Linked DNA regions of Homo sapiens: region 1 is linked to region 2. The links come from fine-mapping of genetic effects on gene expression. A gene starts in region 2. The other region holds a variant in brackets. All regions are shown on one strand. Distances are from middle to middle. Region 1 overlaps PCDH1 (protocadherin 1). Region 2 holds the start of PCDH1 (protocadherin 1).

Region 1 (14,646 bases), 25 kb after region 2:
CTGTTAGACTTCGTTTAACCTTTTTTTTTTTTTTTTTTGAGACAGGGTCTTGCTCTGTCACCCAGGCTGGAGTGCAGGGGCGCAATCTTGGCTCATTGCAACCTCTGCCACCTGGGCTCAAGCGATCCTCCTGTGTAGCTGGGACTACAGTCGTGCACCACCACACCTGGCTAATTTTTGTAATTTCTGTAGAGACAGGGTTTTGCCATGTTGCCCAGGCTGGTCTCAACTCCTGGGCTCAAGCGATCTGCCCACCTCAGCCTCCCAAAGTGCTTGGATGACAGGTGTGAGCTGCCGTGCCTGGCCCCAATTTTGTTTACCTCTTGAGTTTTCTGAATTTATTTCACCATATTGCCCCTCCCTTCCTTTGACGAGCACAGTATGGGAAAACTTGTACAAGACATGGAAATGGGCTTCTGGAAGGAGAAAGTCAGCTTGTCAATGATGAGCAGGATTAGGGCAGGAGGGTCCCCTGCCTCCTCACAGGGTCACCGTGTAAGCAAACTCCTGCGGCAGAAGTGAACCAAGTTGGAGGCAGGGAAAGGGCAGAAAAAGGAATATTCTGGCAAGAAGAGGGGCATAAGAGAAAGCTGAAAGATGAGACTGGAAGAACTGTAGGTTGTAGAGGACATAGGTGCCTTACCAAAAGTTCTTCAGAAGGAACTAGTCCCTGAAAGCTCATGAGTGTTTTAGATGAACTGAGTTTTAGAAAGAGCACTGGAATATATGGTGGGCTTAAAAGGGCATAGAGATGAAGGTACAGGACTGAACCTCTAAGAGTTGGACTATGATGGTGGCAATGGGGGTGATGGATGGATGGATTTGGCAAAGGTTAGGGAGAAAGGACCCACAGGATTCAAGGGATAATTGGATATGAGGTAGGGATAGGGAATGAGGGGAGAGCTACCAGGATTCTCAGGTAGACATCAGCCTTCTGAGTCTGGGTGATAGGATAGTGATGAGATCATTGCCCATACAGAAGCTAATTGAAGAAGCATTTGGTTTCAGACATGTTGAATCTTAAGGGCCAGTAGGCAGAGCCAACTGGAAATAATCAGCAAGTGTCTAGAGCTTCAGGACTCAAAGAGTTTGAGAGAGATTTTTTGATCTGGGCTTTTATAATTTGATAGTCATAAAATTAGAGGGAACATTAAGTGTTGGGTATAACCCAACCCTCCATTTTATGGAAAAGAATCATGGGAAAAGAGACCAAGCGACTTGCTTAGTAGGCAGGACCAAAGCCTTCAATTACCAGATATGGGTTCTGCAGGGAGGTGGGACTGCTGGCCAGTATCTTGAAAGAAAACTGGAAAGAGAAGCACCAACAACCATGTTGCCCTGTGCCTCCCAGACCCCTCCTGGACCCTAATCACCCCTACACCAGGTGGACTACACTCCTTTATAGCCTCCCGGCCCCAAACATCCATGTTAGTTTTGGGGACCTTATCAGTCATCACCCAGACCCTTCAGTGTTTTAGATCAATACAAGGATTCCAAGAACGGTCGCTTATTCCTGAAGATGAGGTGGGAGCCATCTTCAGGAATGGGGATAGTGGGGAGGCAGTTCTGGGCTACCTTCACAGCAGCTCCAAAACTCCTGTCCTGACAGCCTCTTCCACCCTAGCTGCCTTGAATGGGGCTATTAGGAGGGTAAGTCTACAAAGCCAGGGCCACCTCCCCTGGCCATCTTCATAACCTCCTATCCAGAGTTATAGAGTAAGACAAAGCACTGCCAAAGTCTTGGAGGATGGGAAGGAGCTTAGAGACTCATCAGCAGGGCCCTGGGCTTAGCTGTTTTCACCCCTGGCCTCCAGGGACCCTGAGTCTGCACCCTCCACAACTCCTAATTTCTGGTTGGCAGGAAAATCTGTGGCAGTCCCAAGTGGGTATTTGGGTGGCTGGCTGGTTGTGCCAAGTGCCAAGTTGAGATTGCCAGGTTCCAGGGCTGATCGTTAACCTGTGGCAGGCATACAGGGCTGCTGGCTGGGAGCAGCCTGTCACGGTTCCACTCCCCCGACCCCCAGTCCCCAGTCCAAGCCTCCAAGTCTGGCTCCTCATGCCAGCAGCCCTCCCAGAAGCTCCTTCCTATTTCCTGGAAGGAGTCTCCCTTTGAGACCAGCTTTCCTAATCCCTAATGGGTGCCATGCCCTCTCCCCATGTCCAGGCTCCTGGCAGAGCCCTACCCTCTCCAGTGAATATTCTATTTCCTGATCGGGAGGACTGGGGAGTTTCCATTGTTCTGCTTTGTCCCCTTCCCCCAGGTGCCCTGGTTTGTTATCAGGCTCCTCCCTTTTTTTCCACTCCCAGGCCTCTCTGGAGGGGAGTGAAGTGGGGATGGGGGGCTGAGTGGGAGGGGCGACAGCAGGGAGTCTTCAGACTGCTGCAACATCACAAACCAGGGATGAGGAACACAGGATAAGAAAAGAAAGGTTGTTCCCTCATTTGGAAGGAGGCAGTGGCAAGAGCAGTGAGACAGGTGAGGAGCTGGAGTTTGGAGGGTGCTGTTTGGAAATGAGGGAACTAACTGTTGTGGTATTGGTGAGCTGTTTGGGAGTTAGGAGTCTGCTTCTTTTAGGAAGCTGTTCTAGAAACTGCAGGCTATGCTGGTGTTTAGAGGCTGAGCTGGAATTAGGGGAGTCGGGTGGTATTATGTTACTCTGGTATTGGGCTCTACACCGTATTACAGGTCATTCTGGGATTAAAGGGAGGCTGTGCCAATATTGGGAAGCTGGGTTAGAACTAGAAGGGTTGTGCTATAACAAGCGGTTGCACTGGATGAGGGTTATTGGGGTAGCATAGGGGCTATAATAACACTGGGGCCTGCGCTGTATTGGGACTTCCAGTATGTGGACTTGGCTGTACTAGGAGCGGTCCTAGAACTCAGGAGCTGTCTTTCACTGGGGCCTGTGCTTTCGGGAGGAATGTGCTGTGCTGGGGCCTGGGTCTCTTCTTGGTTGCTGTTGAAGCCTGAGTAGGATGGTGCTTGGCTTGTACTAGGGCCTGGTATGGTGGTGGGCCCTGTGGGCAAGCTGGCTGGTCAGTAGTGACAATCTGTCTCCCTGCAGTTACCTCACCGCCGCGTCACCTTCTCGGCCACCAGCCAGGCCCAGGAGCTGCAGGACCCATCCCAGCACAGTTACTATGACAGTGGCCTGGAGGAGTCTGAGACGCCGTCCAGCAAGTCATCCTCAGGGCCTCGACTCGGTCCCCTGGCCCTGCCTGAGGATCACTATGAGCGCACCACCCCTGATGGCAGCATAGGAGAGATGGAGCACCCCGAGAATGGTGAGGCGCAGCACCATGGTCAGGGCACCCCAGGAATGAGTGGAAGCCTGGGAATGGTGACAAGGCCTTAAACAAATCATCTATGTATTGAGTTATTATGTGCTCAGTCATCATCACCGTGCTGAGGGCTTTCAGGTATACACGCATTTAATCCCCAGAACCACTCTGTGATTTGAGAACTTTATGGCACCCACTTTACAGTGGAGGAAACTGAGGCTTAGAGAGGTTAAGTCACTTGCCCAAAGTCATACATCTAGAACGTGACAGACCTGGGAGGGATTCAAACCCAGGTTTCTCTGACTCCAAAGCTGTTGCATTCGGCACCATGTTTACACGGCCACCTGGGAACAGGGACCCTGAGTGTGGTGGCCAGAAAGCTCACGTAATGGTGAGGAAACCTTGAGAAGGTGGGTGGTGGTCCTCTAAGGTTGGGAAGGCCTTGAGAATAGAGATTGGGCCCTGGATGCTACAGGGGGCTCAGAGAATGGAGTGACGATATGCTGGGGTGAGGAGTGGGAGAAGGTTTGGCACCTCTTTGAGGAAGAGCGCGGTAGGAGGTCTGGTGAAGAGAAAGGCCTGTCTGGGAGGGATTTGGAGGGTGATGGCAAAAAGGAGGTGTGAGCCAGCGCAGAGGTCGGCATGGGAATGGATGGTGAGGTGTGCCGTCAGTGTGTGTGCAGTGCGTGTGCATGTGTGAAGTCGTCCATGGCAGCCTGTGGAGGGGGAGAGTGAACGAGCTAACCCCTGAGATGGAAAGACTCTCTAAGTTGGAGTTGTCCTCGGGTCCCACCCACTCCCTCAACTCAAAGCCTCCTCGCTCCACAAAAGATGGGAGGTTTCACTCCCCTGCCTCAGGCACAGGGCCCTTGTCTAACCTCCCGGGCCCTTGTCTAACCTCCCAGGCCCTAGGTCTCAGAGTGCCCTCCACCCCCACCCCGCCCCTCCATGCGCGATCTCATGCCCGTCTCATCCTTTTTGTGCCCGCGCAGAGCCGGCTGGCCGGAGCAGGCCCTGAGGCAGAGTGCCAGGTATGTGGGAACTGCTCTGGGGTCTGGGGTCTGTGGGACTCTGCCCAGCACCCAGCCTCACCCACCCAGTGCCCATGCTCTGCTCTGAGCCATGTTGCGTCCCCCAACTCTGCTCTGAGCTGTAGAGCCTTGGCACTTTGAGGGTTAACAACAGAGCTGTCCCCTCCTCACCTGGCACTGGCAGGAGGCCAAGCCATAGTGGGTGGTGCCAGGGGAGCCCCTGTCCCAGGCAGTGTTGCTTAGCCATGTCCCTTGGGGGTGGGGGGGGGTCACTGCCTGGTGCTGTCCCTGAGCAAGGGCAGGACAGGGACAGCTGTGACAGGAAGTACTCATGGCCCAGCCGTTCCCATGGAGACCCCCGCTGCCCAGCAACTACACCGGCTACTGCTGATGTCAGGCAGCCAACTCCTGTTCCCGTGGGTGTTCTGGGCAGGGAGCTGGGGCAAGGCCAGGGGTGGTGGCTGGTTTAGGGGCCAGAGTGAGGTGGGGAGGGGCTGCATGAGCGTGCTTGTGGATGTGAGTGTGTGCCTCTATGTGAATACCCCACACAGAAGCTCGTCCCTTCCCCCTGGCTTTAAAGCAAGGTCTTGCAGGAGGAGGGTGGGTTCAGGACCACCGGGAGCATGTGAAGCTTGAGGGGGTTCTGAAGGAAGCAATGTACCCAATTTCATCTGAGGATAGAGGTGCCCACTGTAGTAGATTTGTGTATCCATGCCTATCTGTGTGTGTGAGAGGGAGAGAGAGAGAGAGTTGATTGTGTCAATCAATTCAATGAGGATGGAGGTTTCCTCAACCCCACCTGAGGATAGATTTGCACATTTAAGTCTGTCTGGAGATAGATGAGGCAGTGTGTAGATGAGTGTGTGTTTGTGCACCTGTCTGAGGGCAGATTTGGTGGGTGTGTAAGAAGAGCACTGGGGGGTAGGTGACGCTGGAAGGAATGTGTCTATTTAGGGCTTGGTGGCTCATGCCTGTAATTCCAACACTCTGGGAGGCTGAGGCAGGCGGATTGCTTGAACTCAGGAGTTCAAGACCAGCCTGGGCAACATGGCTTAAACCCCATCTCTACAAAAAAATATAAAAAATTAGCCAGGCATGGTAGTGCATGCCTATAGTCACAGATATTTGGGAGTCTGAGGTGGGAGGATTGCCTGAGCCTGGGAAATTGAGGCTGCAGTGAGCCAAGATCACACCACTGCACTCCAGCCTGGGTGACAGGAGTGAGACCCTGTCTTGAAAAAAAAAAGGATAAGGCTGGGTGCGGTGGCTCATGCTTGTAATCCCAACACTTTGGGAGGTCAAGGTGGGTGGATCACCTGAGGTCAGGAGTTCAAGACCAGCCTGGTCAACCTGGTGAAACCCCATCTCTACTAAAAATCCAAAAATTAACCAGATATGGTGGTGGGCGCCTGTAATCCCAGCTACTCGGGAGGCTGAGGCAAAAGAATTGCTTGAACCCGGGAGGTGGAGGTTGCAGTAAGCCGAGATTGCGCCATTGCACTCCAGCCTGGGTGACAAGAGCAAGACTCCATCTCAAAACAAAGAAAAAGAAAAAGAAAAAAGATAGATTATGTGTGTGTGCGTGTGCGTGTGTACAGTAGGCCAGTAGGTCGATGGTGGGAGGGCATGTGTCTCTTTGAGGGTGTGTGTGCCTGTGAGTTCAGCGGTCAGGAAGGGGCGCATACTCCTGTCCTGAGGTGGGGTGTAGATGCCAGTGGGAGGCCATGAAGCAGAGCTTTGCAGAGGCTGTATGTCTGACAATTGTCCTTCCCCGCTCCCTCCTACAGACCTTCGCCCTTTGCCTGATGTCGCCATGACAGGCACATGTACCCGGGAGTGCAGTGAGTTTGGCCACTCTGACACATGCTGGATGCCTGGCCAGTCATCTCCCAGCCGCCGGACCAAGAGCAGCGCCCTCAAACTCTCCACCTTCGTGCCTTACCAGGACCGAGGAGGGCAGGAGCCTGCGGGCGCCGGCAGCCCCAGCCCCCCGGAAGACCGGAACACCAAAACGGCCCCCGTGCGCCTCCTGCCCTCCTACAGTGCCTTCTCCCACAGTAGCCATGATTCCTGCAAGGACTCGGCCACCTTGGAGGAAATCCCCCTGACCCAGACCTCGGACTTCCCACCCGCAGCCACACCGGCATCTGCCCAGACGGCCAAGCGCGAGATCTACCTGTGAGCCCCCTACTGGCCGGCCGGCCCCCCTCCCCCAGCCGCCGGCCAGCTCCCAAATGGCCCATTCCAGGGCCTCACTCTCCACCCCTTCAGCGTGGACTTCCTGGCCAGGGCCCCAAGTGGGGGTATCACTGACCTCATGACCACGCTGGCCCTTCTCCCATGCAGGGTCCAGGTCCTCTCCCCTCATTTCCATCTCCCAGCCCCCAGGGGCCCCTTCCCCTTTATGGGGCTTCCCCCATCTGATGCCCAAGAGGGCTCCTCTGCAATGACTGGGCTCCTTCCCTTGACTTCCAGGGAGCACCCCCTCGATTTGGGCAGATGGTGGAGTCAAGGGTGGGCAGCGTACTTCTAACTCATTGTTTCCCTCATGGCCGACCAGGGCGGGGATAGCATGCCCAATTTTAGCCCTGAAGCAGGGCTGAACTGGGGAGCCCCTTTCCCTGGGAGCTCCCAGAGGAAACTCTTGACCACCAGTGGCTCCCTGAAGGGCTTTTGTTACCAAAGGTGGGGTAGGGACGGGGGTGGGAGTGGAGCGGAGGCCTTGTTTTCCCGTGCTGCTCCTGGACTGGCCCACCTGCCTGCCACATGCCCACGCCTAGTCCCATCTGGGCCCCCATTCCCTGCTGGTCATGCAGTGTCTGTATATAAGGACCTTGGAATGACGTCCCCATTTCTGCCTGATTTGCAACTTTTCTTGTTGATGTCGTGTTGTCTTGGGGGACCCCTCTGGGGGGGGACCTGCCCTGTGCCCCCTCCTCCCTGCCGCAGTGCCCCCCAACCCAGGCCTCTATTGTTCCATGTTGTAAATACCCCTGGGGCCATGGTGGGATGGGGGTGCAGGCCAGGGAAACAACGGGTGGGTGGGGGTGGGGACGGGGGTAACATTTGCCTATCAGCAGAGCTGGGCTTTTATTTAATTTTTCTTAAAAATACAAATCTCTATTTTTTTGGAACTGTTGCGCTGTGCCCTGGGGGGATCCCCGCTCAGGCTGGCCTCCCACATCCAGATGAGCATCACAGAGGGGCCCTGAGGCTGTGGGGGGCAGCTGGACAGGGGTGGGATGACTGTGCCTCTGGCCTGGTTGGGTGAGTTGGGAGCAGGAAGGTTTGCTCAGGGGGTGGCTGGGTGCTGCTCCCGATATAGGGGGCCTGCATCCTGCCCCCTCCCTGCCCTCTCAACCCCCAGCCCCTGCCATGACTGACCCGTCAGCCTGTAAAACCACCATTGCCTTGATCTCAGGGGGTGGGAGGGCTGCCTCAGGGCACCCTGGGCTCCAGGCCCCCTTCTTCCAGTTGGGCTTCCCTTTGTCAGGGTCAGGGGTCCCATGGGGGAGGGGGTAGGGAGGTTGGGGGGCAGAGAAGCCCAGTCAGCCATGATGAGGTGAAGTTCTCTTCTTCACCTCAGGGGGCCAGGGTGTAAGGGGCGTCCTGCAGAGCCCCCGTCTCCCACTGTGGCCATCTCAAAGCCTCAGCCCCTCTTCCTTCCAGAAACCCCCACTGCCTTGGCCCATACCTCTCCAGCTCCCTAGGGGCCCAGGCTGGGAGGCTGGAGACTCAGGGTATGGCCCTTGCTTGACTTAGTCTAAGCTTGGGGAGGTGGTCCAAGATTGCGAG[C/G]GGTGGGTACAGGCTGCGGGGTCGTCTGGTGCCTTTGGGAGCTGTGCTGCTGGGGTCTTGACTCTTGTACCCCAGAGACCCCACCCCCACCCCGGAAAAGCCAGGGGCCTGAAGAATCACCCTATTTATCTGCCCCTTACCCCCAACTTGGCTTGGGGTGACAGTGCTAGGAAGGAGAGCATTGTTAGGCTGGTAGCCCTGGCATACGAAGCCCTTCTACAGAGGGGAAGGGGTAGAATGGGATGGGGTGGCAGCAGCCAGGTCTAGGGGTTGGCCAAAGGCTCCTTTCCCTTGGGGAGGCCCAGGAGATGGGCTTGGGGCTTGTTAAAGAGACAGCCCCTTTCCCCTGCACAAATGGGGCAGGTGCAATAGTCTTGGAGTTGGTAGTATTGGGTGCCCAGCTGGTGGAACAGTGGCCTCAAGGATTGTCCTGGGTCCTGGAGGTCAGGATTCGGGCAAGAAGATTGTATGAGGCCCATTTGCTTGGTGGAGAAGGTGGTCCAGACAGGCGGCATTCCTGGGGTCAGTGGACTCCCACTGGAAGCCCCTAGTGGCCTGGGTACCTTGCCCTGGTCTTAGAGACCCCTGAGCACTGAGCAGAAGAGCAGAGGAGCATTTTGCACAATGGAGAAGCCAGAAGAAAGAGGGTGGCCCAGATGGCTGGGAGAGCTGAGAAGCCCTTCCCACAGGCAAAGACAGAGCCCCCAGCCCCCTGGTTGGGGCCAGGGCACTGAGTCTGTCACCAACTGGGCACTGGAGAGATGAAACCAAAGGTGGGCAGGGGTTGGCGACAGCACTGGGGACTATCCCTGTGGGTCCTAGGTCTGTGAAGCCCCTCCCCAATGCCTGTGTCGCGTACAGTTTTATGTACCAATAGGCGACATTTGGCCAGAGGAGAGCCCCCCTCAAACCCAGCCTGACCCAGTCTGTGTCTTCCCAGAGGGGACCTAGTCGGTCCCCATCCCCCTACTTCAGGGCATGTCTCTCCGTAGGGGGAGGGTATATGGGGACATATTTCTCTCCTAGGGTCCTTGAAGCATGTTTCACATTCCGGGGTGGGGGGAAGTTCTCTGGGCATCCCTCACCTCTGGGGTCTCTCTAGGCCCTATCTCTCCCCTTGGGAGTCTCCGGGGGACATGTGTTCCCGCTGAGGACCACGGGAGCATGTCTCCCCCAATTACCCAGGCTCTCTGGGGAGCCTGTTTTCCTCCCAGGGTTCCTGGGAGTACTTAAGGCAAGTCAGTTTCGGGCCATCTCTCTTCCCAGGGAAGGGGGCTATCTCTGAAACACGTCTGGGAAGGGATGTTTCTGGCCCTACCCCCATCTCTCCTATGGGGGTTTCTCTGCCCTGCAGCACTTTAGGATGAGGCTGGGCATCTCTGAGTTGTCTTTTCTCCTAGGAGCCCTGGGATACCTCTCTCTCCCGAGGGTAGGGCCTCTGGAGCCATTTCTTCCCTGGGTCGGGGCTGTCTCCGGGTGTTGGGAGGGCTTGTGTTGGCCATGAGAAAGTCTCTTAAGGGGCGTCTCCACTGGGGACTTCTCTGGGAGGGGGGACTGTGTCCCGCCCATGGGGTTTCGGGCGGGTGTGTCTGCCCATGGGGAGGGGAGACTGTGTCTCCTCGGGTTATCTAGTGGGGAGGGGGGCCGTGTCTCTCTCGTGTGTAGGGGGGTGGGGGTCGGGGTGGGGGGTTTTGGGCGCGTCGGGTGCCCACATTGGGGTCGTGTTTCTCTTGGTTCGTGCCACTTCCCACTGCCTCGCTCCTCCCGGGAAGGGCCCCCGCCCCGCCCCACCCCACCCCATCCCTGGCGCTGCGAGCACAATCCCGTTGATTTGTAATGATTTCTGTCTCTTTCTGTCTTTCTCTTTCTCTGACCCCCCCACCCCCACCCCCACCCCCCCCCACCCCGCCGCGAGCATGCGCAGGCACCGCCCCTACCCCCTCCGGTTCGGTTCGTTTCCGGTTTGTTTGCTGAGCTGTCAATGAAAGACCCGTGTAATTATTCCCGAGCTTTACAATAAAAGTGTGAAAACCGGACCCCACTCAGCTTCTTCCGGGTCCTCGGGCCTGCGTCCCGTGGAGAGTGGGAGCTAAATCTGGAGGCCTTGGAGAGGGCTGGGGGACGCGAGGGACAAGAGACTGAGACCCGCACTGGTATTAATCGGGGATGGGGTCGAGCTGACGCGTTCTGAGGATAGACTCCTAGTCCGTACACCTCAAAGTGACCCCTGCCGGATCCTCTGGGCCCGACCTGCTGTGGGCACCCCCTCCCCGCAAGAACTCAGGTGCAGGATGGGGTGGGAGGTGACCGCAGGAGAGGTTTTGTGCTGCGCTGCCTTCTTCCCCGGGCGCCCGCAGGACGTGCAGTCGTTCCCGGGTGTATCCATTCCCGCTCCCCACTCTTTGGCAACGAGTGTGAATTGCGGAACTGGATAGGATAAGGGGCGGGAGACATCTGTCTGTCTGCCGCGTTCTCCCACGCTCAGGAACGAGGGTTGGAAGTCGATTTAGGGGAAAGGAACCGAAAAGGTCTCAGCCTCGGTCTCCGACTGCGCTCCCCTCCCCCCTTCCGGGCTCGACCGGCCCCGGCCTCCTCCGTCCGGCTCCCGGGTAAACACCCGCTCCGGAGAGGTCGGAAAACAGAGACCGGATCAGCCGGTTCCTGGCCCCGCCTCCCGGGGCGTTGCTCCCTCCTCCGCCCCTCCCCACCCCCACACCCGCCCAGCGTCGCGCGCTTTTGCTCGACCCGCGCCCTAGCTCCCTAGGCCGGTACTGTGTGGGCCTCGCTCCGGACCCCGGGGTCGGTCCAGCCGCTGGGATTAGCCGACCGCAGGGACTAATCCCGGATGAGCCTCGTGTAAACCCGGATCGACAGCGGGGACGGCGGGGGTTGCTGGCACCCCTTCATCCGTTCCCAGACGCGGAGCATCACGGGGCATAGAGCCCACCCCGAGGCTCCTTGCTGCTTTCGGAGAGACCCGAGTTGGATCTGCAGTTGGGGGCGTGGCGGGGCAGGAGATGAAGAACGCAGGGCCGGGATCTGACGCGCCGAGAGCCTGGCGCGGGGTGACTGGGGTGTGGGGCGGAAAGGCAGAGATCTCTCGGGCAGTACTTGAATCTACCGGCTTAGGTCAGCTCCCTACTCAGTCTACAACCGAAGCCCCCTACCTATCCTCCAGTTACAGAATCACAGACCCTCCCCCTACCAGTGGGTGTGGCAACCCTTCCTAAACCTGAGGCCTCACCTCATTAGGAGAGGCGCTGAATCAGCGGGGGAGGGGCCCGCATTGTCTCCACCCCTGACTTGACCCCACAGTGAAGGGTGAGGAGTTCCTTCTGTTAAGGCCTAGCCCAGGAAAAGATGTCTGGAGTTAAGGAAGTTGGAGGAGATGTGGTGGCCGACTGGGTACCAGAATCCTGTCACTGGTTGATTAACTCATTCTACAAACATTTCCTGAGCCCCTCCCATGTGCCAGACCGGCACAGGGTACTGGACCCCAAGAATGACACACAGTCTCTGTGGGAAAGGCAGACAGGTAAACAATGACCACATCTTGTGTTCGGCCCTGCCTTGAGCCGGAAATTCTGGCAGGAGACCTAAAGGCGCTGTCCTCTCCAAAGTCTAGAGGCTTTCTGGAAGGGGTGGTGCCAGAGCTGAGTTTCAAAGGGCAAATGAGGGATAGGCTACTGAGGAAGGGGTCAGCCTTGCAGGCTGAGGAGGAGTATGTGCCAGGGTCTGGAGGTGGAGGAGGAGGTGAGGTGGCTCAGGAGGGCAGGAGAAGTTGGAGAAGAAGGCAGGGGCCAGAACTAAGGACCTGCTGGTCAACTTAAAGTGCTTGGATTGAGGGGTTGGAGAGGAGCCATTTACAGATTTTAAGCCTGTAAAAGAAAAGGTCAGATTTACATTCTTCCAGATTCTGTGTTCCTCCCTTCCCTGCCCCAGGTTTCTCTGGGGATGCCTGGGTTGGGAGTGGAGATACACAGGCAGACAGGAAGAGGAACCAGGTGCAGTTTAGGCTGGTTAAGAATGGTCCCTGGCTGGTCGCGGTGGCTCACACCTGTAATCCCAGCACTTTGGGAGGCCGAGGTGGGCTGATCACGAGGTCAGGAGTTCGAAACCAGCCTGGCCAACATGGGGAAACCCCATCTCTACTAAAAATATCAAAATTAGCTGGGCACGGTGGTGCGCACCTGTAATCCCAGCTACTTGGGAGGCTGAGGCAGGAGAATCATTTGAACCCGGGAGGCAGAGGTTGCAGTGAGCCGAGATTGTGCCACTGCACTCTAGCCTGGACAGCAGAGCAAGACTCCATCTCGGAAAACAAACAAAAGAATGGTCCCCACTTTCCATCAAACTTGGAGTCAGAGAGACCTACGTTAGAAATTTGGCTGTACTTATTTCTAGTGGCATGACCTTGGGTAGGTGGCTGAGCCTCAGTTTCTTCCTCTGTAAGGTGGGGATAATAGTGCTTACCATCACCAAAGGTTATTGTGGGGCTTCAATGAGATAATTTGTCCACTTTTTTATTTATCACACGTCTAACACCTACTAAGTGGCAGGCACTGTCTCAGGTGCTAGCATTATGGTGCTGAATAAGACAGGCATGATGCCTACTCTCTCTCTCTGGGAACTTGCATTCTAGAGGAAAAGACAGACAATAAACAAATAAATGAGATAATTATAGATTGTGTTAAAGTGCTGTGAAGGAAACAAACAGTGGGACAAGAAGGAGGATAACTGGAGGTGGGGGAGGGGAGGGGGCTGCTTTACCCAGCCAGGGAAGCTTCCCTGAGGAAACCTGAAGGTTGGCCAGTGTACTCCAGCCTGGGCAACAAGGTGAGACCCTGTCTCAAAAAAGAGAAAAAAAAAAATAACCCTGAAGTTTTAGAGCTTGGCAAAGAACATTCCAGATACAAGGAAACTGCAGGGAAATTGCCTTCAAAGGCCCTGAAGTGGGAGAAAAGAGCATAGCCACAGTACTCTAAGATGCTAAGATTCCTCAGGGCAGTTACCTGGGTTTCTTTTCTTCTAACCTTCTGGGCAAAGTGAGTAGAAATGGAGGGGAGTTGGCCGGGTGTGGTGGCTCACGCCTGTAATCTCAGCACTTTCGGAGGCTGAGGCGGGCAGTTCGAGACCAGCCTGATCAACATGGAAAAACCTCGTCTCTACTAAAAAAAAAAATACAGCCGGGTGCGGTGGCTCACGCCTGTAATCCCAGCACTTTGGGAGGCCGATGCGGGCGGATCACGAGGTCAGGAGATCAAGACCATCCTGGCTAACATGGTGAAACCCCGTCTCTATTAAAAATACAAAAAAATTAGCCAGGCTTGGTGGCGGGCGCCTGTGGTCCCAGCTACTCGGGAGGCTGAGGCAGGAGAATGGCGTGAACCCGGAAGGCGGAGCTTGCAGTAAGCCGAGATTGCGCCACTGCACTCCAGCCTGGGTGACAGAGCGAGACTCCGTCTCAAAACAAACAAACAAACAAACAAAAAAATTAGCCGAGCATGGTGGCGCATGCCAGTAATCCCAGCTACTCGGGAGGCTGAGGCAGGAGAATCGCTTGAACCTGGGAGGCGGAAGTTGCGGTGAGCCGAGATCACACCATTGCACTCCTGTCTGGGCAACAAGATTGAATCTCGGTCTCAAGAAAAAAGAAAAAAATGGAGGGGAGTTTCCATCCTGCTGGGCCAAACCCCTTCCCCTCCAACCCCATCCCCTGGAGTAATATTGGGGAGATGTGGGCTTCATCAGTCAGCCCATCTGTCCAGCTTAATCTTCCACCTGTTCTATAGCTGCCCCCAACCCCCCTCCCAGTTTCAGGACAGGTCTCAGCCCGCTATTTTCCCAGTGGGTTCTGGGGTTCCTAGTCCTCTTGGGCAGGCGGGGCAGGTTAGGGCCCCTCCAGAATCTGCCATTACAGATCCTGGATGAAACAGAATTTAGTATCTGACCTGCAGGGGCCAAGGGGTGGATGTTTCCCAGATGAAGATGACCAAGGGGTTTAGGGGCTTAGGCCTTTTAGAGTTTCCCCCTTGGCCTGGGTCTCACTTCAAGGAGGCGGCCTGGATCCCTGTCTGATTCCCCCTCAAAGAATGCTTCCTGTAACATGGATACATTTCACACACAGCCGCCCGCCCCTGCTGCAGAGCGCACACAGCTCCTCTCACACACACTCACCATCCAGCTGCACCGTGCGTCTCCATGGCAACCAGTAGGCCTGGTCCACGGATGTTAGAAATAAGTGCCAGAGGAAGAGGAGAGAGAGAGGGAGAGGGAGAAGGGAGAAAGAGAAATAAAGAGACTTAGAAAGATAACCTCCCAAGGAGAGCCCTACCCTTTCCTTACAACCCTGCCAGGAAGACGTGAGTGGATTCGGGCCCTGAGGACGGAGGAGCTCAGGGTGGGGACTAAGCAGTAGATTAGGGGCTGTCTGGACACAGGTAACGGGGCACAGTGGGCAGTAAGGAGTGGGCAGAATCAAGGGAACTTTCTTGACAGTCTGTAGTCTTGGGATAGGAATACTTGGTCTAGGTGAAAA
Region 2 (14,646 bases):
AGAGAGAGAGGCAAGGACAGAGCAGACAGGTAGGCAGGCAAAGAAATAGACTTGTATTTTAAGAGCTTAAATAGAGGGGATAGAGAGGCAAACAAGCACACAGTTCAAACGTAGGAGTTCAGAAGTCAGCTATAGAGTTACTGTTGAATGTGAATTAATGTGTGTGTTCCTCAGACACACACACACACATATACACATACACACAGCATGACAGAATTCTCTTTCCTAGTTTGAAAATTCAGCCCTTTTTTTCACTATGATGGCCCCAAATGGGATGAAGAATAATGTAGAAGGTGAAAAAATGTATGTGTATTAGGAGGATAAGAATCAAAGTGAAGTGATAAGACATCAGTGAAAGAAGGAAAAATGGAGTAGGAACAATGCAGGAAGAACTGGAAGCCGGTGGGAGGGTAAAATGAGAGTAAACTTCAGTTGAAAGGAAGGAAGGAAGGAGGTAAAGGAAGGGGTGTTTGAGGAACAAATAGGTAAGAAAGCCAACTTCCTCACTCCTGGATAACTTACTCTCTATTGTACAGTACCTGGAAAACAGTAGGCATTAGATAAACATTGAACAGAAGAACAAAGTCAGGAAGGCTATGGGAAGCAGGATCAAACAGGGTAAGGTATGTGGGTAGTAATATCTACTAACATTCACTGAGTTTTACCATAAGCTGTACACCCGGCTAACCACTTTACATGATTTATCACTTTAAATCCTCACCAACACTCCATGAGGTAATTCACAGTATCCCCATTTAGTAGATGAAGAAACGGAGGCTCAGACAGTTCAAGTAACTCATCCAAGGTCACCTGAGTAGTAAGTGGCAGAGTCAGGATTTAAATGTTGACTTGTCCGACTTCCAAACCAGTGTTTCTCACCACTATATTAAATGTATTCCTAGCCAGGCACAGTGGCTCATGCCTGTAATCCCAGCACTTTGGGATGCTGAAGCGAGCAGACTATTTGAGGTCAGGAGTTCGAGACCAGCCTGGCCAACATGGTGAAACCTGTCTCTAGTGAAATATAAAAAAATAGCCAGGCGTGGAGGCGCGCAGCTCTAATCCCAGCTACTCGGGAGGCTAAGGCAGGAGAATCACTTGAACCCGGGAGGCAGAGGTTGCAGTGAGCTGAGATGGCGCCACTGCACTCCAATCTGGGCGACAGAGTGAGGCTCGGTCTCAAAAAAAACAAAAAAAAACAAAAACAAAAAAATTCCCCTTTGAGTAAAGGGTAGGTCTATACCCCTCTCGTTTACCACCCCATACACATAAAAGTTTGGCAAGGACCACAAAAGACATGGTACCAAACCTAGCCTATTAGTGAGGAGAGTACTAGGAGTGGAGGAATGGGGGCAGGCTCCCGGGCTGAGGAAGGACCATATTAAAGCCTCATCTTCAACAACACAAAGAAAAACAATTTGAAACTTAATCATCTCCCAGAATTATGATCCCTTCCCGCAGCGGGGAGCACATTAGCAGAGCTGAGAAATGATAATTCAGCAGCCCCCAACCCAGCAGGGAAGGAAAGAGAGGAGGAGGGAGGAGAGCCGGAGGAAAACAGAAACAGAGGCACAGAGAAAGATGGGGAACGCGGGGAGAGGCAAGGCCTGACCTCTCATGGCTCTTCTTCCTGCCCAAGTCTGAGACAGGGTTCCAGGAAAGTGGGCTGGTGGCACTTGGCCCTTCAATTGTGCCCAGATAGGGCAGGGGTCAAGGTGCTCCCTAGGTCAGTTCTCAGCACCGATGGATCCCCACGTTCGGAGCTGCATCCAAGCTCATCCGGGCCAGGCGTGGTTTAGTGGTCTTAGCCTGGTTGGGGGAAAGCTCCCGAGCCACCAGAGCTGGCTCTGAGCACCCGCTTGTCCGATGGCACCTAGGCGAATCAGCGGTCCGTCAGGACCCGAGGCGCTGGACAGCTCCCGGTCCCAGAAATGGTTCTCCGGAGTCCAGCAGTGAGGTGGGGTGAGGCTGCCCCCGCGCCGCGGCAGACCCCACCCTCCGGAGAAGCGCGAAGGTTGCTGGGAGCTCCTGGGGAAAGGGCTCGGGGTCGTGAAAGGGTCCCGATGGAGATCTGGTGGGGACCTTGAGACTGGAGCCCCGGGGGCAACTTCTCCAGACGCATTCCTTCCTTCTGAGTCCAGACCCCTTCACTCCCCACACCACCCCCCGCTGGGGACAATGGCGCCTTCAGCCCCCAGAGATGAATGGGGCCTTTGAGAGCCGCATGCCACGGGGTCAGCGGCGGCCACCGGGTCCCCGGGGGCTGCCCAGCCTCCAGATCAAGGAGACTCTGGTCAGGGAGAGTGGGGAGCTCTTCGGGGAAGAAAGGAATTCCATGGTCCCTTTCTTAGAGACTAGTGGGCCCCGGAGAAGAGATTCATCTGGATCAGGCAGTTCCTGGTAAAGAAGGATTTTAAGGGGGTGGGGAGGGAGGAACCCCCACTACCTGTGGCAGGGAAGGGGAGATTCTGTGCCCCTTCCTCAGGAGGCAGCAAAGCCAGCTACCAAGCTTTTGCTACCTCTTCCCCCCACTCCACGCTCCATCCCGCCTGGTTCCCCAAATCGGGGTCCCACCCTCAGTTTGCATGGGGCAGCTCCCCGTTTCTCTCGGTCCTTTCATCGGGGGCTGTCCCTAAGGCTTGGTCCCTCCTTCCTGCTCCTGTCTCCCCTCCGATTCTTGCACTGCACAGCCTACCCAGTTTCTATGGAAACAGGCTGGGAAGGCACTGCCAGGAGGCCAAGGCCACTACAGCTCTTGGGGGGAGGGGAAGATAGAAATGGAAAGAGAGACGCAGGAGGCGAGTTCTGGCCATTCCCGGAAGCGGGTGGAGATCTGTTGGGAGTGAGCCTTCACTGCCAGAGGGGTGGGGCAGAAGGAGAGGTGTGATTAAGTGATGTGACTGAGACAGAGTTGAGGGGCTCCTCCTCATTCCCCCAATTCCCAGTGCTCCAGACATCTAGACAAGCCTCCTCAGAGGGGAAAGTGGTGGATGAAGAAGGAAAAGAGACAGGTAGTACCAAGAGCTCTGCCCATTTCTAACTTATGTGAGGCTCTATCCTTTTACCCCTCCTGGGGACATGCCCACTTGAGAGGAGGTCTCCAGGGAACTAGAAGGCTCCCAAGAAGTGGGAGGGAAAATTGGAGTGCGGTGTGAGTGGTCAGGGATGTTCAGGAATCTCCCCTAGGAAGGTGAGCTAGAGGTGGGCAGAGGCCTCGGAATGTCAGCTACTTTTATGGTACCCCTCTCTGGCACCTCCACTGAGGAGTTGGTAGGGGGCTGGAGACTGTCAGCTTCCTCCCCTCTGTTCATCCCATCAGAACGTTGGGCTATGAGAAAACAAAAGTGGCCTAGTGGGGGTTGGGTGCACAGAAAGGGAGATAAGCCTAAGGCAAGAAGGGCCAGAAGAGGGGTGGGTGAATGAGTGAGTGCGGATGCTTGTGGCTAGGGCAGGGAGGGAGCTTCTTAGAAGCTTCATCTGCCAGCTCCTGGGAAGTGATCCCCAGCCCTCACCCTCTCCCGATGCTCCCACCTCAGGCAAAGCTGCCCCTTGGACAGGAACTATTGGAAATCTCAGAGTCCTGGGAGATTGTGCTGTGGGGGATTCCTTGGAAAGGGGCCTTCTAGGTTATCAGAACGTTCAGCAAAGCTTCCCTGGGGGAGAGGGGTAGTGAAACAGGTACCCTGGAGCCTAGGGTTTCCTGGATCTGAGCCATCGGCTCTCCCTGACCATAGTCCCCAGAACAGTCGTCTTGGTGTTTGCTTATTTTGGTTATTTTTTGATCAGATATTTTGGCACTGAGCACACTGCCTCCTGTTGCCATGGCAGCCGTGACAGGGGCTGAGGCACCGTGAGAAAAATACCAAAATTAATGAGTGAGCGAAAGTGCAGCCGAGAGAAAAACAAGGTTAAAAAAAGAGTTAAAACAGTAATGAAAACAGGCTTTCCAGCTCCACAGCAGAGCAGCTGCTGAGGCCTCCCCAGAGCAGCAGCCCCCACCCAGCCTAGAGCTCCTGGCATCTCCCAGACCTCAAGGCAGGACTCACTTGGCTTCCCCCACCCAGCTCGTCACTGACCCAGCAACAGCCACTTGGGGACCACCCTATGCACAACAGTAGATCAGCTCCAACAGTACATCAGCTTCCATCTCAGGTAGTATCCTGCCTCCCAGAACAGCTTGTCATCTCCTAAACAATAGAGTCTCAGCCACAGCCCCCACACAACAATGGTCCAGCAAAATTACCAGGAAATGGCCTCCTAGCTACACCCAAGCTTTAAAGTTATAGCTGCAGGCATCCCAGCTAGAGTCCAGCACACAGTAACAGCCCAACCACAATTCTGAGCAACAGCATCTTAGCTATAGCCAATCCCCAGTATGCTGTCATCACAGCTACAGCTCCAGGACCAATAGCAGCTCAGCTACAGTCCTATACACAACAGTAGCTCTGCTCCTATCCCAGGTAACAGCCTGTCTCCCAGGTACAGGCTCCTCGCAACAGCCTCTCATCTCCTAGGACCTAGGCAATGGATCCAGTTACAGTCCCATCTACATCATATTAACAGGGAACAGCTTCTCAGCTACAGCCAGTCTCAGGTGTGCCAGCCTCATATCTATAGCTTCAGGCCCAACAGCTTATCAGTTACAGTTCTCCCTCAACATGCACACACACACCCATATACACACAGCTTGGCGATAGTTTCTCAGGTAATCTTATTGGCTATAGCCTAGGCACACCAGCATCAGAGCACTGCAACAGTGTCCTAAGTACAATCAGAGGCAGCAGCCTTGGTGTTACAGTTCCAGGCCCTACAGCATCCTAGTTCACTTAGCCACAGCCCATCCCAGGTACACGGATATCACAGCAAGCACCCCAACCATTCCCATACCCAGCATCACCCTGGTTCCAATCCCTGGCCACAGTCTCAGCTGGAACTCAGGCACCATCAGTTTCAGGAGCCTCCCCCAGTGCTTCACTTGCCAAGCAGGTCCTCCTCCCACTTTGGTACAGGGCCAGAAGTCTGACTTCTCTCCTCTTCAAATGCCACCTCCCTTGCTCCCCAACCATCCTCCCAGTCCCTGCTTGCTCACCTGCCCTCTTTCCTGGGGAAAAAAGGCCCCAATTCTCATATCTACATTGTCCCTGACTCAGGGGCACAGAGCCCAGCCTGGCAGCTGGGGTAGGAGGGGCTGGGGAGCAGGGAGAAGAGTAGGCACACCCTGGTGCTGCTGCTGTGGCCCAGTTCTGCTCCTACCACTTGGTGCAGAATTTGAGTTTGATGGTGGTGGAGCAGGGAGGATGGAGGCGAACATCTGGGAGATTAGCATTTCCTGCCCAGCTCTGCGGCTGCTGATCCTGCTCAGCCCTGAGCAAGGGAGGAGAACAGAGGAGCCTTTGAATGGCTCCCAGCAAGCAGACTGGGGAGGGTTTGCTGCATTGGGCAGCGGGCACACGCTGGGGGCAGGGAGACCGGGGCAGCTCTTCTGTGGAAGATTTCTTCTCTCTGGGCCACTGATTCCCTCCTCGGAGCTGTGCTCAATGATGTGGAGAGTATGAGCTTTCTAGAGACAGAAAGAAGCTACTTACAGAACAGACCCACCCCCCTCTTTCACCAGATTACCCCATCTCCCATCTAGAGCCCTGCCCCTGGGCTCCTGGGGCTGAGGGATAGAGCAGAGCCCAGGTCAGAAAAGGAGTCCAGTTAAGCAGGGCTGCTCTGGGAGAGATCTTGGACAGACTTTGCTTGCCCTCTTAGCTAACCAGAGATTCCACTTTTACCCTGAAGAGCATCCCACCGAGAGAGGCCAGAGCTGAGAAGAGAAGGAAGTAGAAGAAAGAGGAAAGGCACAGAAGAGTGGTAGGAACAGGAAAATGGGGAAGGACAGAGATGGGGAGTCAGAGGCTATGGCAAAAAGAGGCCCAACAACTGGTCATCCCATAACAAGAGCCTTTCCTCACCCAGCACTAGGCCTGGCTAGGGATAACCTTCCTCATTCTTTTGACCTAGAACACTCTGCCTGGGCCTGCAGGCGAAGAAGGCAGGAGGTCCTGTTGAACTGGGACACTTGGTAGCCTGGGTTACCAAACCGCAAGCGCAGGAGAGGGAGTTCCCAAGCTACTCAGAGACCTCTAGATGGCGCCAGAGAGCCAGAGCTGAATGGGAGAAACCGAGTATTGGAGTGTGTGAGACACTGCGTGTGACACCGTGTGTGATTTGGTGTGAGTGTGATAGGGAGCGTGTGGCACTGCGAGGGCGTGTGACACAGGCCGTGACACTGCGCGGCCTCGCGGGGCAGGGACCCGGTGACTGTATAATGTAAGTCACTGGCAAATACGTGTGGCCGCAGCACTACGCCGTGCAGAGGGCAGGTGATCAGGGGACCCTCGAATAGCCTAAGCTCAGGAGCAGCACTTCGTCTTCACGCTTGTGTATCTTCCCCATCCTCACTCTAGAGCCCCCGGGTCCCATTAGCCTCCTCCTCCCACGGTCCCCTCCATAGCCCCACCCCCACGGCTTGCTGCGGCCACCGAGGCTGACCGCTCTGCGGCTTCGGCCGGAGGGGGAGGGGTGGACTTTCCCCGAGCGCAGCGGGAAGGGAGGGCCACACAGGGCGATCGGGGATCTGGGCGGGAAGAGGGTGGATATGGAGGAGCAGGTGCCCAGGGAAGAAGGCGCTGTGGGAGACACTTCCCTTGCCTCGACTTCCCAGGGGGCAGACAGAGCTGGGGACAGGTGTTTGAGTAGGGTAAGGAGGGGAATCCAGGAGCGGTCCTAGATGGAGGCTTGGGTGGGATAAGTGTAAGGTGAAGCTCAGAGGAGGGCACGGCCTGTGTACTGGGCCTCGGGCAGTGAAGAGATGGCAGAGGGAGGGGTCCAGGCTTTGGGGAGCGGTGCTCGGGGTCCCCTCCCAGCCGGACCGGAGCGGTCCCGAGCTCCACCTCCCGGCCGGAGGGGGGGCGGGGAGGCGGGCGGGCCGGGAGGGAGGGGGGAGGGAGGGGGCGGGCCGGGCTGTGCGCTCCGCTCTCTGCTGGCTCCGCCGCCGCCGCCGCCGCCGCCGCCGCCGCCGCCGCCGCCTCACACACTCGGGGAGCGGGAGCGCGGCGCGGACGCAAAGCCGCCGGGCTGCTGCGCCCAGAGCCAGCCGGAGCCGGAGCCGGAGCCCGAACTGCAGCTCCAGCCCCAGCCGTGCGGAGCCGCAGCCCAGGCCGGGGCCGGCGGCGGCTCATGGACAGCGGGGCGGGCGGCCGGCGCTGCCCGGAGGCGGGTAAGGATCCGGCGGCGGTGGAGGCAGCAGCGGCTTGGGGCCCGAAGCGGTCATGGCCGGCGGGAGCTGAGGGAGGGGCGCTCGGCGGAGCGAGGCCGCGGGGGCCCAACACGAGCTCGGCGCGAGGGGGCTGAGGTGGGGGCTGCTGGGAGCCCATAGCAGGGGATGCGGCTGAGGGATTCCGTCCTCCCAGGTCCGCGGCGAGAAGCCGAGGGAGGGGAGGGGGTGCTGAGCAGAACCCTAGTCCCCGCGTCCCAAACCTGGGCGCGCTCGGAGAGACGGGGATAAGGAGACTCCAGGAGCGCGCGGCGTGGAGGATGGGTTTGGGGAAGCGCGCGGCCCCCAGTTTGGTGGGGGTCTCCCGGAGGACGGAGCAAGCAAGGACCGTTGTCCACAACACATACATACACACTTGTTGGGCAACTACCTCGGCTCACTCAGCCGCTTCCAGCTTCTCGCGGGCACCCAGAGGGCCAGACCGTGGACATATATACACACATACATACATCCCTGCATATGTGCACACAGACATACCTCCCGCACACCAGCGCCCACTGGGGCACCGTCGCCAGCTCAGAATCCGCTTCAGTGTCTGCACGATCAGCAGCACCGACACACAACCCGTGGCTTTACAGAGCAATAACACAACCGGGTGTGACACCCCGCGACGTGGACACACAAACACAATCTCGTGCCCTCATGTACGAGTGTCACAGCCACAGTTCACTAGATGAACCCTCAAAACCTAGCCACCCCCCACATTCCTTTAAGGAACACACCCTAGCATATATCATCTTACCCACTTCTTGGCCAGAACATAGGTACACAGCACAGGTCTCCTTGCACCCCTCTACTGCACCCACACAAACACACAACCCAGTATCTCAGCACACGCTTGATGGCACACACTCTAACACAGGAATTGGCACCTACAGCAGCGCCTCACGGTCACAAACACAGAATCCACTGCTTCACCCATCTTAACACTGGGTGTCACACACACCTTAAACCAACAGTGTCACATTACATTACACCCTGCAGCGCATACACACAAACACACACACTCCGTTCCTCTCTCTCGGAGTCCAGATTCAGGCAGGAGAAGCCGCCGGGGTCGTTCGGCGAGCCCCAAGCGCCCCGCCACGTTAATCGCGACATTATTATTGTAAATATCGGCACAGCGGGAAGGCTGGGCCGGCCTGCCGGCTTCCCAGTCGGCGCCTCCCCAACCCCCACTCCCGGGCCGAACCGGCTGGTGTTCCGGGAACAAGCTGGACCTGGCTGGCCAAGCCATCCCGCCTCCCCGGAGCTCTGGGGCCCCAGGTTCCTTTGTAGAGGGTGCTAGCCTGGGACGGTGATTGCGACCCTCTTCCAGCCATTTAGCTGAGTTTTCTGAGCCACCTGGGTCTCCAGCACACCTGGGTCCCACACACCTTGGTGGGTCCCGCACACCTGGGTTCGTCTCACACCTGAGCGCCCCCTCCGCCTGGTCCCCGCTGTAGGCCAGTGTGTGCGCGGGCAGGCCCTGGAGCCAGAACGGAGATCGCGGCAGGCATAGGAGCAGAATTTGTAGGCGAGGTGGTCTCGCACCCCTTCCCCCCAGCTACCCTCTGTAAGTCAGAATTCTGGCCTCAGTTTCCCCAACAGTGGTCGGCTACTATTTCTTCTGCCAGGAAAGACTGGGGGCGGCACTGAGGCCTTGGAGGATTGAGCGTAGGGCAAAAAACCCCCTCTGCTCGCCACGAGAGGGTCGGTTTTATGAGAATGTCCCCGCCTAGCCGGGTTCGCGGCTTTGTGATTCCGGCGCCGGCTCCCTCCCCGCCCCCTCCTGGCGCCCGCTGCGCCGCTCGCGCCGGCTCCGGCTTGCGGGGGACCCTAGGCCGAGGCCGGAGATGCCGGGGAGGAGGGATTCCCCGCGGTGGCCTGGGTGCGGGGGGCGCAAGGGCTCCCCCCACTAGCCGAAGCGCGTTCTCACCACGCCGCGCCCTAGCCTTGCCTTGGGTTCCTGGAGGCTGGGCGCTGCCGGGGTGGGGGTGGGGCCGCCAGAGCCCAAGAAACTGCCGCCGTCCCCCCCGCCACCCCCTAATCTCCGCAACACACACACACACTCGGCGTCCTCTGGGAGGAGTCGCTCCGCGCGCTGGGTGTGTGCTGGGAGCGCCCGCTGACCAAGGCGGTGCGGACTGGGGCTGCTTGGGTCGCTTCGTGCAGGAAGACGCCGCGAGGCTTCTAGCACCTGCTCTGGGTCAACCCTCGGGAGCTGCCAGGGAAGGGGCCGCCCAGAAAGTTTTTATGACAAGCCGGAGGTCTAGCTGTGTTTGTAGGGGGTGGGGGGCGCGGGAGTAGGTGGGTGTTACTTTATTGACGTTAAGGTCTGGGGGAATTGGAACCTGTAATTACAACTAGACTAGGGCATGGGGTGGAATCGAGGGGAGAGGCAGACTGGCCCCCAGAGGTAGCCAGAGGCAGTGTGATAGGGAGGCAAGTCTGGATTCAGTTCTGGCCGCATTTAGTTTTTACCCCTTCTCCTACCCACCTCCAATTCCCAATTCCAAAAGGGACTTCAGCTGGAAGTGGGTGTCTTGCTGGTCTGCCATCTTCTTAGCAGAGGGGCTGCTGCTGTGGCTACTTCTGCAGGGGAGCTGGGCAAGCGATAGTAAGCTAATTGCTGAGAAGGGGGTTGAAGGGCCAGGAGGGGGCCGCGAGGGTGGGGGAGGAGCTAAGTGGGAATCAGGGTTCGGGGAGGGGTGTAGGGAAAGAAGAAGGTGAGGGCTGCCCCTGCCGTGAGCAAGGATAGTTGGTGCAGAGATTCTGTTCAACAATGTATTGAGCACCTTTTATCTGCCAGGGTCCATGGTGGGTGGTGAGGATGCAGTAGTAAGAGACATACCATCATTGCCTTCATAGGACTTACCAACCAGCGAGGGGATTGGCTTGTTTATTCATCGAACCAAGGAGCACCCACTGTGTGCCCGATGCTGGAAATAAAATGGTCTATTCAGCAATTAGAAGACTTAGAAAAAAAAATGATTTGTCCTTTACATGTAATGTAAATAGACCTTAATGTAATAGACCTTATAGGCATGAGATCTCATTTAATTCTCCCAAATAATTTCAAGAGGCAGGTTTCATTATTTCCATTTCACAGTATGGAAACAGGTTCAGAAAAGTAAATTCACTTGGTTAATGTCACACAGCTAGGAAGTGGTGGAGCGAGGGTTCTAACCCCAACGATCTGACATGCAGGTGCCCAGAAGCCCTGCAGAGGCTAATAGAGGGTTGTGGGAGAGAGGGGAGAGGAGCTGAGGTCTGCACACTTGCTCTCTGTGGGAGGCTTCTGTTCAGCTCCACCCCACGCAACCCCATTTTCTTCCCCTCTCCCCGCGACAGTCCGTTTGTCCCTTGGTGTTTTGTGCCCGCGGCAGTGACCGTTGTGTAACAGTGCTGGGGTGAGGGTGGGGAGTCAGAGCTGACCTGGCTACTGGGACAGTGGTGGCTGCCTCTGTGTGTTTTTTCTCTGGCCACAGCACTCAGCAAAATGGACCTTGGTCCCCGGGGTGGGCTGGAAGTGAAGTTTCCGGGTGAACTCTCACCTCTGTTCTCATCCCTTCCCAGATGTTGACACAGACAGTATTTCCTTCAGCTTTTCTGGGACTCCGTCCCCTCCTTATCCCTTACTCCTACACCCCTGACGGCACTTCTGCTCCTCTATCTGAGGGACATGGGTCCCTGCGCCTGTTCCCCCTCAGGCTCTGGCTTCTCAGGGTCCTGGGTGCCCATGTCACTGGGGGGAGGTAGGGCACCGTTGCCCAGGAAGGCAGCCAGGGCCCGGGGAAGGGCAGATAAGGCGCTGCATGTATCAAAGGCTGCTGTGTGGGATTAATGACTCCCAGTGCCCAACTGCTGGGGACAAAGTTCAGAGATGGTGGGAACACGGGTGAGGGAAGGCCTCCTTATTGCTGCTCCTGCCCTTCCAGGCCACCCTGGCTCTCTTCCTGCATTTCTACGGGCCCCTGGGTGAACAGCAGCAGCCTAGGAAGCCTGGGCTGGTTCATTCCTTGACCCTTAGGCCCACTGTTTCTTATTCCCTCCTTACGGGGCAAGGTTGGCAGTCCAGGAATGGTGGGGAGGCGGGTGTGACATAACAGGAATCAGATTCTAGCCTCAGATATTTCTGTTTCTTTCCCCCAGACTCTGGGATGTGAAGAGGCATTCTTGTTTCTCAAGTCCTGGTTCTTCCACATACTACTTCTGTGACTTAAGACAGTTTATTCTTTCTCAGCCCCCATTTGATCATCTGTAGTATGGGAAGGAGTGTAATAATAAATACTACCCATTTGAGAGGGTTGGGAGGAAAGAGATCATGTGTGTAAAATGCTTAGTACTGATAAAATCTTAGTGTTTGCTGAGATGATGATGATGATGAGTGATTATGATGGCAAAGGTGATGATAAAAGTTTGCAGGGGCTGGGCGCAGTGGCTCACGCCTGTAATCCCAGCACTTTGGGAGGCTGACGCAGGAGGATCACGAGGTCAGGAGATCAAGACCATCCTGGCTAACACGGTGAAACCCCGTCTCTACTAAAAATACAAAAAAAAAAAAAAAAAATTAGCTGGGCATGGTGGCGGGCGCCTGTAGTCCCAGCTACTCGGGAGGCTGAGGCAGGAGAATGGCGTGAACCTGGCAGGCGGAGCTTGCAGTGAGCCGGGATCGCGCCCCTGCACTCCAGCCTGGGCAACAGAGCAAGACTCCGTCTCAAGAAAAAAAAAACGTTTGCAGGACCGGGCCAGGCGCGGTGGCTCACGCCTGTAATCCTAGCACTTTGGGAGGCCGAGGCGGGCAGATCATGAGGTCAGGAGATCGAGACCATTGTGGCCAACACGGTGAAACCCCGTCTCTACTAAAATACAAAAAAAAAAAAAAAAAAATTTAGCCGGGCGTGGTGGCACGTGCCTGTAGTCCCAGCTACTTGGGAGGCTGAGGCAGGGGAATTGCTTGAACCCGAAAGGTGGAGGTTGCAGTGAGGCCAGATCGCACCACTGCACTCCAGCCTGGCAACGGAGTGAGACTCTGTCTCAAAAAAAAAAAAGAGTTTGCAGGACCTCAGGCTCTTTCTTAACTCCCTGGAATTATCTCAAAGTTGTACCCAGATGGTCCGACCATTGCATCACAATTGCTTGGGGGTTTCTCTAGGTCCCACCTCCTGAATAAAGATTCCTAAGGGTGGGGCCAGATAATCCTCATTTTGAAGAAACTCTCCAGATGCTTGAAAGGCCTAAGCCCTCTTCAACTCCTTTCCCCACTGTGAGCAACTCTCCCCCAACCCTGTTTTCCCCACATTCCTCCTACTTTCTGGGACCTTTCCCCAGCCCCGCCATCCCATACCTTCCTTGAGCTGGATATTATCCTGTGGTTCTCCTTCTCTTTCCAATTCAGAGGTTAGATACCACAGTCCTTAATTGGTTCTTTTGCTGGTTGAAGGTAAGACAACTCCTCAGGGTGAGAAAGAGCGTGTGGGGAGCGGAGGTAGTCTCACAAGCATGTGTGCCTGTTCTGCCTAGGAGGTTTGAAAGGTTATAGGGCCTCAGGTTGTGACTGTGAGATGGAGGAAGCCTGAGGCAGGGGCTTAATTCGTAGCTCTTGGAGTGGCCACACATCATTCGCCCTGACTGCCAGATCATGGCCCCCTGAATTAGCGGCTAAAATTTGTGAACAGTCATTTTTCCTGGAAAAATCTGTACCATGGTTTTATAAAATTCTTGAAGGAGGATGTGACCACAGAAGATTAACTATCTTAAGTATCCTCGATCTGGAGAGAACAGAGGCAAACAGTGACTGCCTTATTTATTCTCTTGGTCAGGTTTAGGGTAATTCCCGTGGGCTTCCCACATAACGCCTCACCTGCCAAGACTTTTGTAGAGAATTAGGGTGCACAGTGATACCACATTGTATATGCAGAGGAGGGTGGCAGCAGGATACAGTCCCATAAGAAAATGAGGTTCTCTGGTGATGGTCCTTTGACGATGTGTTTGGGTTGGGGTTGAAGTAGTCAGATGAGCCTTGTGCCAGGTCCATGCAGGTGGAGGGGGGGGGTGGGGGGTGGATCCAAATGGAGTACAGATAAATTCCTGCTTCCTTTAAAGAGATTAACATTCACACCAATCTGATAACGCCGCACACACTTTAGGGAGGGGCCTGTGCTTGGGGAAGGCCATACAGAGGAGGGGATGTGTTTGATTTATCTAAAGACTCTGTGCATTCAGTGAACATTTGCTGAGAGTCTACTATGTGCCCTAAACAGAGAAGACTTACATTTTACCCCAGGAAGTTCTTAGTGGTGTAGGGGAATCGGGTAAGTGAGCAAGTAAAAGAGCAGTGGTCACACAGCAAGTACCAGGAAAGGCTAAGCCTAGAGAGCAAAATAACAACAGTCATTCAAGAGCTGCCAAGTGCCCACTGTGTGCCAGGTCCAGGGCTAAGCCCTGAGGAGGTAGGAGCAAACAAAGTAGAAACTCTCCTGCTTTCTGCTCACCATCTTGGAGCAAAGACAGACAATTAACACATTTTCCAAACAGGTACACAACTACAATTGTGCTAAATGCTTTGAAGGAGTCCTTTGTTGAGTACCCACATTTAGCCCACAGTATCTCAAACACCCTAGGAAATAGGTAGTATTATCCCCATTTTACAGGTAAGGAAACTGAGGCACTAAATCTTTGCTTCAGGTCATGCAGCCAGGAAGTGAGCAGCTGGGTTTGCCTCAGACTGTCTAATGCCACAACCCTCGCTCTTCTCCACCCTGCTGCCTTACATTCGCCAAATGGTATACAGAAGCAACCAAACAAAATGGACAAATAGTCATTGAGTTAGAAGCACTGTCATGGCAGATTGGACCAGTCTTGTTTACTTCTGCATCCCAGTGCCCAGGACAGAGCCTGGCATATTGTAAATGCCCAATAAACATTTGTTGAATGCATGACTGAGTCCCTACAGTGTACCCAGATGTGCAAAGGTGCATTGTTAGGGGGCAGGGGATGAGTGAGTGTACAGAGTACTGTCCCTTCCTTCGTAGTGCTTTGTGTTTGCCTGGAAAGGCAGAGAACTCAGGAATAGGTGCACAATACTGAAGCTGAACAACACAGGCGGGCGGTGTCCCAGTCAGCCCCATGATTCATTGCCTTGGGATTGGAGCAGACAATAAGTGGCTGTGAGTTGGAGGAAGGAGAGGTCACCGTGGGCAGGAGAGGACTGTGAAGGTTTCCTGGAGGGCCAGAGCCTGCCCTCAGTGGGATTGATGTGGGGTGGGTGTTCCAGGTGTGGGGAAGGTATTCCAGGTAAAAGTGAGGAAGTGGGGAAAGGAGACTGAACCAGAAGCCTCCAA

What was found.
Region 1: its variant is fine-mapped to the expression of PCDH1 in whole blood (INTERVAL, PIP 0.94).

The regions. Positions count from the first base shown.
Region 1 is chr5:141,845,891-141,860,536 of GRCh38, reverse strand. PCDH1 (protocadherin 1) reads left to right here. Exons shown (of 5, transcript NM_032420.5): 4 at 3,066-3,285; 5 at 6,101-7,447. The coding sequence ends at 6,495. Among named protein-coding and RNA genes, the nearest start is that of PCDH1, 25 kb to the left of the region's middle. RefSeq lists silencers at 10,612-10,861, 14,139-14,433 and enhancers at 10,512-11,068, 11,422-11,511, 11,627-12,183, 12,940-13,761. The variant C/G (reference allele first, on the strand shown) is at 8,109.
Region 2 is chr5:141,870,841-141,885,486 of GRCh38, reverse strand. PCDH1 (protocadherin 1) reads left to right here and starts at 7,077. Exons shown (of 5, transcript NM_032420.5): 1 at 7,077-7,264. The coding sequence starts at 7,225. RefSeq lists enhancers at 2,167-3,049, 7,079-7,828, 8,095-8,779, 11,882-12,604.